Homo sapiens: one gene and its partners. The protein of the gene in region 1 interacts with the protein of each later gene in a pairwise test. Each region holds a gene or a part of one and is shown in the gene's direction. Other genes may lie near its edges.

Region 1 (3,750 bases):
AGTTTATGCGCATAGGACTGTTTATACTATTCTTTGATGGTTGTTTGTATTTCTGTGGGGTCAGTGGTAATATCATTTTTGATTGTGTTTGTTTGAATCTTCTCTCTTTTTTCTTCATTAGTATAGCTAGCGGTCTATTTTATTAATTTTATCAAAAAACTAGCTCCTGTATTCATTTTTTTTTTTTTTGAAGGGTTTTCTGTGTCTCTATCTCCTTCAGTTCAGCTCTGATCTTGGTTATTTCTTGTCTTCTGCTAGCTTCGGGGTTTGTTTGCTCTTGTTTCTCTAGTTCTTTTATTTGTGATATTAGGTTGTCAACTGGAGATCTTTCTAGCTTTTTGATTTGGGCATTTAGTGCTATAAATTTCTTTCTTAACAAGAATGAAATTTTAGCTGTGTCTGAGATTCTGGTATGTTGTATCTTTGTTCTCATTCAAAGAAGTTCATTCTTCTCATTCAAGAAGTTCTGCCTTAATTTTATTATTTACCCAAAAGTCATTCAGGAGCAGGTTGTTCAATTTCCATGTAGTTGTGTGGTTTTGAGTGAATTGAGTGCCATGTGGTGATGAGAAGAACGTATATTCTGTTGTTTTTGGGTGGAGAGTTCTGTAGATATCAGGTCCACTTGATCCAGAGCTGAGGTCAGGTTTGAATATCTTTGTTAGTTTTCTGTCTTGATGATCTGTCTACTATTGTCAGCAGAGTGTTAAAGTCTCCCACTATTATTGTGTGGGAGTCTAGTCTCTTTGAAGCTCTCGAAGTACTTGCTTTATGAATCTGGGTGTTCCTGTATTGGGTGCATATATATTTAAGGTAGTTAGCTCTTCTTGTTGAATTGAACCCTTTACCATTATGTAATGCCCTTCTTTGTCTTTTTTTTTTCTCTTGAGACAGAGTCTTGCTCTGTCACCCAGGCTGGAGTACAGTGGCGCAATTTCAGCTCACTGCAACCTCTGCTTCCTTCTTTGTCTTTTTTGATCTTCTTTGGTTTAGAGTCTGTTTTGTCAGAAACTAGGATTGCGACCACTGCTTTTTTCTGTTTTCCATTTGCTTGGTAAATTTTCCTTCATCCCTGTATTTTGAGCCTATGTGTGTCTTTGTATGTATAGTGGGTCTCTTGAATACAGCTCACTGATGGGTCTTGTTTTTTTATCTGGTTTGCCATTCTGTGTCTTTTAATTGGGGCATTTAGCCCATTTACATTTAAGGTTAGTATTGTTATGTGTAAATTTGATCCTGTCATCATGATGCTAGCTGGTTATTTTGCAAACTTATGTGGTTGCTTCACAGTGTCACTGGTCTGTATACTTCAGTGTGTTTTTGTAGTGGCTGGTAACAATTTTTCCTTTCCATATTTAGTGCTTCCTTCAGGAACTCTTGTAAGGCAGGTCTGGTAGTAATGAATTCCCTCGGCATTTGCTTGTCTGAAAAGGATCTTATTTCTCCTTTGCTTATGAAGCTTAGTTTGACCAGATATGAAATTCTGGGTTGGAAATTCTTTTAAGGATGTTGAATATGGGCCCCCAATCTCTTCTGGCTTATAGGGTTTCTGCTGAGAGATCTGCTGTTAGTCTGATGGGCTTCCCTTTGTAGGTGGCCTGGCCTTTCTCTCTGGCTGAATGGCAGGGTTCTTAACGTGTCCATGTACCTCCTGTGGGAAAGCCATGGATGGACTTTAGGAAGCTCATGGATTTTTCCAAAATTATATATAAAAATCTGTGTACATGTGTATGTGTGCATTTTTCCAGGGAGAGCATCATATTTTTCATGAGATTGGCACAGGAATCTGCCAATATATGAAAGGTTAAAAACTACTCTCTTACATAAAAGTGGTCCTAGGAAGATATCTAACATCTGCAGTTTGAGTATTTGGCCATTGTGGTTCCCTAGCTTGCCCCTCAGCATTGTCTGCCTTGTTTTCTATCTTTAGAGTTTATTTGATATAGATAGATAGATATAGATATAGATATCTCATGTGTTTGTCTTCTATTCTTACAAAACAACAAAATAATGTATGGGCCTTTTTGAGAACATACACGCTCTGGTCCAATATGTGGTAACTTTGATTTAGTGGGTTTAGGATGTTACCAGGGCATATCAAGCTCCTGGGGTGACTGTATACTTTGGATGAGAATTATTCTATCCATGATATGCCCTTGGAAGGCAGGAATCAGTTTTTATTCATCTTTTGTTTCCTTCAAAAAATGTGTCTTGCATCCATTAAATCTTCTGTTGAACTGAAATGCACAGATGACTCATTCCCAGTGAGATAAGTCTTTTTAGCAACTGGTAGTTTTTATTTTTCCCTTATCAAATTTCAGCCTTCTTACCATGCTAGCAAATACATGTTTTGTAGATCTTGTGACTTCATTTTTTTTTTTAAGAATGGTTACCCATTCTAGGACTCAGGTTATGGCATTGTAACAAGATGTGAAAAATGGAATTCTTTTAGTTTCAGATTTGGCTTAGGCTCCAAGCTGCTATGTACCAAAATAAGGTGTGAGACCACCATGTAGGAGTTGCAAAAGATGGGGATAAAAAACATGTTTTGTGACTCATAAAAAAGGCCAGGTTGATGGAAATTAAAACATGATTTTTGGAGAGAGCTATTAGAGTTTTAGGGCTCCCTATATGAAGGAATTAGGGAGGCTTGCTCTCATCTCAAGCCCTCACTGAGAAAGGGCTTTTCTGGTACAGAGACTTTCTACCTGATAGTTCAACTGGATAGCCAGTGGCAGAATTAGCTGTGTGGTTTGGGCAGTTACTGTACTGATGAGAGTGGAGCAGAGGTGTTTCCTGTGGACCAAGGTGAGCACACACAATTGTGAGAGAGTGTGTCTGAATATGTTCAAGAGGCTTTCCTGGAAGTGTGACAGGATCCCAACACAGAGAATCTCTGGAGGACTGCCAAGAACCTAAGACTGAAGGGAAAGTCATAGCATCCATCCAGAGGGTAAATTACCCTTTTCAAAGAATAGGTAAGAAATCTCCAGGGCCTAGGGAAAGGAGAAGTGTCTGAAGAACATGAGAAAGTACCCCATAAGAGAACCACAGTAGTTTTTGAATACCTTGCAAACTCAAAAAGCACCAATGCAAAACTAGTAAGATAATACCAGTCATCAAATAAGAACTTTGCTGCTCCTTTCACCTTTCCCTCCATTTAACCCTCAACCTGGAGGGCCACAACTCTTAATCAGCAAGCTGAGGGAAGAGGACTGGAAGTACTACAGGATAAAGAAGCACTATAGGCCTTGGTGTGCTGGCTCACACCTGTAATCCCAGCACTTTGGGAGGCTAAGATGGGCGGAGCACTTGAGGTCAGGAGTTCCAGACCAGCCTGGCCAACCTGGCGAAACCCCGTCTCTACTAAAAATACAAAAATTAGCTGGGCATGGTGGTGCATGCCTGTAATCCCAGCTACTTGGGTGGCTGAGGCAGGAGAATCACTTGACTCCGGGAGGCAGAGGTTGCAGTGAGCTGAGGTCATGCCATTGCACTCCAGCCTGGGTGACAGAGTGAAACTTCATCTCAAAAAAAAAAAATAGCCCTATAGGACAGCGGTCCCCAACCTTTTTGTAACAGGGACTGGTTTCATGGAAGACAGTTTTTCCATGGACCATACCGGGTGTAGGGGGTAGGGGCAGGATGGGGAGAGGAGCGTTAGATTCTCTTGAGGAGCACTCAACCTAGGTCCTTCACATGCGCAGTTCACAATAGGGTTCTTGCTCCTATGAGAATCTAATGCTGCAG
Region 2 (3,750 bases), on another chromosome or scaffold:
TCTGGGGGTGGGGGGAATAGGGAGTTGCTATTCAGTGGGTTTCAGTCATGCAAGATGAAAAAGTTCTAGAGACCTACTGTATGACACTGTGCCCACAATTAACAATACTGTTAGTATGCACTTAAAAATATGTTAAGAGGTCATGTCTTATAGTATATATTTCTTACCACAATTTTTTAAAAAAACACGGTGTTGAGCAAAGCATGCAAAATACAAAAGAATACTTAGGCCATAATTACGCTTACACGAAATTAAACAACACGTATCACTAAGCAAGCCATAGCAAGAGAGCAAAACTTTAAAGGAAAACATGAGGATGATTAACAGAAAGTTCAAGATAGTGGTTACCTCTGAAGTAGGGATGGTAATGTCCTATTCTAAATTGATAGGTTCATAGGTGTTTATTATTCTTTTTCAAAAGGTATAGAATGTTGATTACATTCTTTCATATGTAGGATTTATTTTACAATACTTTTTTTAAAGAAGTATCATCAACAGTCAATTACAAATGACATTTTGGGGAGAACCGGAGAAACAAATATGAACTGGCTATGAGATGACATGCAGAAACTATTAATTATCTTAGATATGATAATGGCTTTGTGATTATATTGAAGAATATCCTTATTCTTAGAATTTGCATGCTGATGTATTTAGGAAATAGGAACATAATGTATTCAATTTCATTTCAAATATTTCAACAAATGTAGCTATAGGTATTCTAAAATATCCCAAACTATTAATAATTGTTAAATCCAGTTGTAGGTATACAAGTATCATTGTTCTGTTATTTCAATTTTTCTGTATGTTTAAAAAGTTCATAATAAAAAGGTGGAGGAGGAAATAGCCAATACATTCCAACATTCTAGTATTTGTTTATGAACTTCCCAGATTCCATCCCTGGTATCCAAATGATCTGAGTCCAGTGATATGACTGGTGAGATTGTAACCAAAGATTCACCACCTAATAAGGAGTAGGCTCACTTCCAGGAATGGAGGTATCCTCCCTGCCTCCACTTAACCCCAACTCAGTCCCTTCCACACTTCAGGATGTGGAACACCCCAAACCCAAATCTTTGCATTACTCAGGGGTCCTGTTAGTAAATGACAGAAATCCAATTCAGACCAGCTTAGGCAGAAAGGTGAATGTATTGGGTGGTAACATAACCCTGGGTATGAGTGGGGCTGATCTCAGGAAAAAGTTTAGTGAAGGACTAGATATCCTCTAAATTACTCCCTGTCCATCTCTCATCTCTTTTTATCAGCATCTTAGATTTATCTTCTCAGAATTTCTCTCTCACCAGGGCCAGGACCAAATTTCTGGAGTTTCTGGGCTTATATCTGCAACTTTTCCAACAGGAAGGATTTTCCTCCCTTTAGTACTCATTCAAAGAAAGGACCCCAAAAGCCTGGTCACACACACACACACACACACACACACACACACACGCACACACGTCCATGTCTTCTTCCAAATCCAGGAATTTGGGGGATGCAGGGGCAGAGGAGGGAAAACAAATCCTATGAAGATGATACAGTATAATTATTATGCTCATTGTATGAATGAGGAAACGGAGGCTTAGAAAGGTGAAGCTGCTTTCAAAGTCACACAGCTGGTGACAGGTCCAAAATCTGCTTTCCTCCAGGCCACATGAGATTGGCGGGGGGCAGGAGCACACGGTGCTGGAGCGCAAGGCTGAGAGTGAATGTTCAGGACAGACATTTTAAGCACTGCCATTCAGATTCTTCCTTGGGGTGAGGTGAGAACTGAGAACAAGTCCGGGGCAGCACAGGAAGGAGGGAAGATTTTGGTCCCAGGTGAATCAGGCATGAAGAGGGACTGATAGAGAACACGGTGGAGTTGAGGAAGTCTGGCCCTGCCACTGCCTCGTGTGTGAACTTGAGTAATTTCATGCCCTTTCTGTGCTTCTTTTCCTCCTTCCATAAGATAGTTTGGCCCTGGTGGCGCCTAATGGTCAATCACGTGTCCATTTCTTCTCCTCGTGTGAAGAACGAGGGTCGCTCTTGGATTTCTTCATCTATTCCAGTGCAGAGCCTTAGGGAAAGCCCCAAGTCCCTCCTCAGAAGGGGCCATTTCCAAATAGAGCTGGGAAGTGCAGCCTCCCTTGCCATTTTGAGCCTTCAGCTCCACCCACTGGCATGCCCAGCAGGAACACTATAAAGCCAGGCTCAGCCCAGCTCCCAGCCAAGCACCTGCCTGGCAACATGGGGTCCAGCAGCTTCTTGGTCCTCATGGTGTCTCTCGTTCTTGTGACCCTGGTGGCTGTGGAAGGAGTTAAAGAGGGTGAGCAGACATGGTGGAGCTGGGTGGGGCTGGGCTGGGGAGAGGTCCTGAGGGGCCCTCTGGGGCTGGAGTTCTCATATCACCTTGTGGCTTCCTCCACTAGGTATAGAGAAAGCAGGGGTTTGCCCAGCTGACAACGTACGCTGCTTCAAGTCCGATCCTCCCCAGTGTCACACAGACCAGGACTGTCTGGGGGAAAGGAAGTGTTGTTACCTGCACTGTGGCTTCAAGTGTGTGATTCCTGTGAAGGAACTGGAAGAAGGTAAGGAGACCTGCCTCCCAGGGCTGGGGCTGTCCCTTCCCTGCCTCTATCTGACCCATGAAAGTTCGGAGGAATTAGTCCCTTTAGCTGGTGTGGGGAGGGATGGCTAAAGCTGGCAGGGCCCTCAGAGACCACCTAGTCTGAACATCTCCATTGTCCAAAGGAGGAAACAAGGATGAAGATGTGTCAAGGCCATACCCTGAGCCAGGATGGGAGGCCAAGTGTCCAGGCTCCTCCTCTACCAGGTGTCCTCAGAAATGATGCTGGGTCCTTTCTACCTCTGGGGGTCACTCTCACTTGGCACCTGCCCCTGAGGGTCCTGAGACTTGGAATATGGAAGAAGCAATACCCAACCCCACCAAAGAAAACCTGAGCTTGAAGTCCTTTTCCCCAAAAAGAGGGAAGAGTCACAAAAAGTCCAGACCCCAGGGACGGTACTTTCCCTCTCTACCTGGTGCTCCTCCCTAATGCTCATGAATGGACCCCTCATGAATGAAACCAGTGCCCTTATAAGAGACCCCAAAGAGCTGCCTTGCCCTTCTGCAATGTGTGATCACAGCTAGAAGGCACTGTCAGAGAAGAGAAACTGGTCCTCACCAGATGCTGAATCTGCTGGTGCCTTGATCTTGGACTTCCCAGCCTCTAGAACTGTAAGAAATAAATATTTGCTGTTTATAATCCACCCAGTCTATGGTAATTTGTTATAGCAGCCCAAACCTGCTAAGACAACCTAATAGTAAAAAAAAAAAATCCTATTCAACATTATCAAAGTGAATAAAATATAAAATACCTACAAATAAATCTAGAGATGTACAGAAATTTTCTGAAAGGAAACCCTAAAACTTTATTAAATGACATTTTAAAAGATCTGGATAAATAGACTAAACTTTTCTACAGAATAAATAAATAAATGTTTTTTAAAAGATATGCTCTTCCCCAAGCAGGAAGCCTCCTCAAAGTGTTCACCTTGGTCAGCATAATTTATACCTGAAATATAATTAAAATTAAAACCCACTGGGTTTTGCAAACCCTAATGAAATAATTGATTCTGGCAATGATTATCCATGGCTTCTGAATATTTACAGGGTGCCATTTCATCACCCTGTGGTATATTTACAGTTTGTAAGAGGGAAAACACAAGTTTACAACTTGAGGATTCAGGTACACACCGAAAACACATTAA
Region 3 (3,750 bases), on another chromosome or scaffold:
CACCAGGGTGAGGGTGAGGGGCAAGTCTTTGTTCCCAACTAGTTCCGGGCAGGCTGAGAGCCAGAATGACCACCAGGAGCAGCCAGCCCCACAGGCGAGCAATGAGGGCCTGCTTTAGCTACAGTGGGGCTCCTGAGTGGGAGGGGTACGTACATGCGCTGTATTAAGCTCAGAGCCCTCTGAAACCCCCTTCTCACCGGTCACCTTCCCCACTCTAGCAGCGGCTAACAGAGGAGCTGCAGACAGTGGAGAATGGTTACCATGACAACCCAACACTGGAAGTGATGGAGACCTCTTCTGAGATGCAGGAGAAGAAGGTGGTCAGCCTCAACGGGGAGCTGGGGGACAGCTGGATCGTCCCTCTGGACAACCTGACCAAGGACGACCTGGATGAGGAGGAAGACACACACCTCTAGTCCGGTCTGCCGGTGGCCTCCAGCAGCACCACAGAGCTCCAGACCAACCACCCCAAGTGCCGTTTGGATGGGGAAGGGAAAGACTGGGGAGGGAGAGTGAACTCCGAGGGGTGTCCCCTCCCAATCCCCCCAGGGCCTTAATTTTTCCCTTTTCAACCTGAACAAATCACATTCTGTCCAGATTCCTCTTGTAAAATAACCCACTAGTGCCTGAGCTCAGTGCTGCTGGATGATGAGGGAGATCAAGAAAAAGCCACGTAAGGGACTTTATAGATGAACTAGTGGAATCCCTTCATTCTGCAGTGAGATTGCCGAGACCTGAAGAGGGTAAGTGACTTGCCCAAGGTCAGAGCCACTTGGTGACAGAGCCAGGATGAGAACAAAGATTCCATTTGCACCATGCCACACTGCTGTGTTCACATGTGCCTTCCGTCCAGAGCAGTCCCGGGCAGGGGTGAAACTCCAGCAGGTGGCTGGGCTGGAAAGGAGGGCAGGGCTACATCCTGGCTCGGTGGGATCTGACGACCTGAAAGTCCAGCTCCCAAGTTTTCCTTCTCCTACCCCAGCCTCGTGTACCCATCTTCCCACCCTCTATGTTCTTACCCCTCCCTACACTCAGTGTTTGTTCCCACTTACTCTGTCCTGGGGCCTCTGGGATTAGCACAGGTTATTCATAACCTTGAACCCCTTGTTCTGGATTCGGATTTTCTCACATTTGCTTCGTGAGATGGGGGCTTAACCCACACAGGTCTCCGTGCGTGAACCAGGTCTGCTTAGGGGACCTGCGTGCAGGTGAGGAGAGAAGGGGACACTCGAGTCCAGGCTGGTATCTCAGGGCAGCTGATGAGGGGTCAGCAGGAACACTGGCCCATTGCCCCTGGCACTCCTTGCAGAGGCCACCCACGATCTTCTTTGGGCTTCCATTTCCACCAGGGACTAAAATCTGCTGTAGCTAGTGAGAGCAGCGTGTTCCTTTTGTTGTTCACTGCTCAGCTGATGGGAGTGATTCCCTGAGACCCAGTATGAAAGAGCAGTGGCTGCAGGAGAGGCCTTCCCGGGGCCCCCCATCAGCGATGTGTCTTCAGAGACAATCCATTAAAGCAGCCAGGAAGGACAGGCTTTCCCCTGTATATCATAGGAAACTCAGGGACATTTCAAGTTGCTGAGAGTTTTGTTATAGTTGTTTTCTAACCCAGCCCTCCACTGCCAAAGGCCAAAAGCTCAGACAGTTGGCAGACGTCCAGTTAGCTCATCTCACTCACTCTGATTCTCCTGTGCCACAGGAAAAGAGGGCCTGGAAAGCGCAGTGCATGCTGGGTGCATGAAGGGCAGCCTGGGGGACAGACTGTTGTGGGAACGTCCCACTGTCCTGGCCTGGAGCTAGGCCTTGCTGTTCCTCTTCTCTGTGAGCCTAGTGGGGCTGCTGCGGTTCTCTTGCAGTTTCTGGTGGCATCTCAGGGGAACACAAAGCTATGTCTATTCCCCAATATAGGACTTTTATGGGCTCGGCAGTTAGCTGCCATGTAGAAGGCTCCTAAGCAGTGGGCATGGTGAGGTTTCATCTGATTGAGAAGGGGGAATCCTGTGTGGAATGTTGAACTTTCGCCATGGTCTCCATCGTTCTGGGCGTAAATTCCCTGGGATCAAGTAGGAAAATGGGCAGAACTGCTTAGGGGAATGAAATTGCCATTTTTCGGGTGAAACGCCACACCTCCAGGGTCTTAAGAGTCAGGCTCCGGCTGTAGTAGCTCTGATGAAATAGGCTATCCACTCGGGATGGCTTACTTTTTAAAAGGGTAGGGGGAGGGGCTGGGGAAGATCTGTCCTGCACCATCTGCCTAATTCCTTCCTCACAGTCTGTAGCCATCTGATATCCTAGGGGAAAAGGAAGGCCAGGGGTTCACATAGGGCCCCAGCGAGTTTCCCAGGAGTTAGAGGGATGCGAGGCTAACAAGTTCCAAAAACATCTGCCCCGATGCTCTAGTGTTTGGAGGTGGGCAGGATGGAGAACAGTGCCTGTTTGGGGGAAAACAGGAAATCTTGTTAGGCTTGAGTGAGGTGTTTGCTTCCTTCTTGCCCAGCGCTGGGTTCTCTCCACCCAGTAGGTTTTCTGTTGTGGTCCCGTGGGAGAGGCCAGACTGGATTATTCCTCCTTTGCTGATCCTGGGTCACACTTCACCAGCCAGGGCTTTTGACGGAGACAGCAAATAGGCCTCTGCAAATCAATCAAAGGCTGCAACCCTATGGCCTCTTGGAGACAGATGATGACTGGCAAGGACTAGAGAGCAGGAGTGCCTGGCCAGGTCGGTCCTGACTCTCCTGACTCTCCATCGCTCTGTCCAAGGAGAACCCGGAGAGGCTCTGGGCTGATTCAGAGGTTACTGCTTTATATTCGTCCAAACTGTGTTAGTCTAGGCTTAGGACAGCTTCAGAATCTGACACCTTGCCTTGCTCTTGCCACCAGGACACCTATGTCAACAGGCCAAACAGCCATGCATCTATAAAGGTCATCATCTTCTGCCACCTTTACTGGGTTCTAAATGCTCTCTGATAATTCAGAGAGCATTGGGTCTGGGAAGAGGTAAGAGGAACACTAGAAGCTCAGCATGACTTAAACAGGTTGTAGCAAAGACAGTTTATCATCAGCTCTTTCAGTGGTAAACTGTGGTTTCCCCAAGCTGCACAGGAGGCCAGAAACCACAAGTATGATGACTAGGAAGCCTACTGTCATGAGAGTGGGGAGACAGGCAGCAAAGCTTATGAAGGAGGTACAGAATATTCTTTGCGTTGTAAGACAGAATACGGGTTTAATCTAGTCTAGGCACCAGATTTTTTTCCCGCTTGATAAGGAAAGCTAGCAGAAAGTTTATTTAAACCACTTCTTGAGCTTTATCTTTTTTGACAATATACTGGAGAAACTTTGAAGAACAAGTTCAAACTGATACATATACACATATTTTTTTGATAATGTAAATACAGTGACCATGTTAACCTACCCTGCACTGCTTTAAGTGAACATACTTTGAAAAAGCATTATGTTAGCTGAGTGATGGCCAAGTTTTTTCTCTGGACAGGAATGTAAATGTCTTACTGGAAATGACAAGTTTTTGCTTGATTTTTTTTTTTAAACAAAAAATGAAATATAACAAGACAAACTTATGATAAAGTATTTGTCTTGTAGATCAGGTGTTTTGTTTTGTTTTTTTAATTTTAAAATGCAACCCTGCCCCCTCCCCAGCAAAGTCACAGCTCCATTTCAGTAAAGGTTGGAGTCAATATGCTCTGGTTGGCAGGCAACCCTGTAGTCATGGAGAAAGGTATTTCAAGATCTAGT

The links.
Region 2: the proteins of SGTB (region 1) and WFDC12 interact in binary tests that used the Homo sapiens proteins (3 or more experiments, as listed by UniProt).
Region 3: the proteins of SGTB (region 1) and PODXL interact in binary tests that used the Homo sapiens proteins (3 or more experiments, as listed by UniProt).

The regions. Positions count from the first base shown.
Region 1 is NC_000005.10:65,673,454-65,677,203, reverse strand, and holds part of SGTB (small glutamine-rich tetratricopeptide repeat-containing protein beta), read left to right. Parts: intron 1-3,750. UniProt on the Homo sapiens protein: Co-chaperone that binds directly to HSC70 and HSP70 and regulates their ATPase activity.
Region 2 is NC_000020.11:45,122,924-45,126,673, reverse strand, and holds WFDC12 (WAP four-disulfide core domain protein 12 precursor), read left to right. Parts: upstream 1-2,208; 5' UTR 2,209-2,226; coding exon 2,227-2,305; intron 2,306-2,408; coding exon 2,409-2,567; intron 2,568-2,730; coding exon 2,731-2,828; 3' UTR 2,829-3,249; downstream 3,250-3,750. UniProt on the Homo sapiens protein: Antibacterial protein. Putative acid-stable proteinase inhibitor.
Region 3 is NC_000007.14:131,500,977-131,504,726, reverse strand, and holds part of PODXL (podocalyxin isoform 1 precursor), read left to right. Parts: intron 1-218; coding exon 219-416; 3' UTR 417-3,750. UniProt on the Homo sapiens protein: Involved in the regulation of both adhesion and cell morphology and cancer progression. Functions as an anti-adhesive molecule that maintains an open filtration pathway between neighboring foot processes in the podocyte by charge repulsion.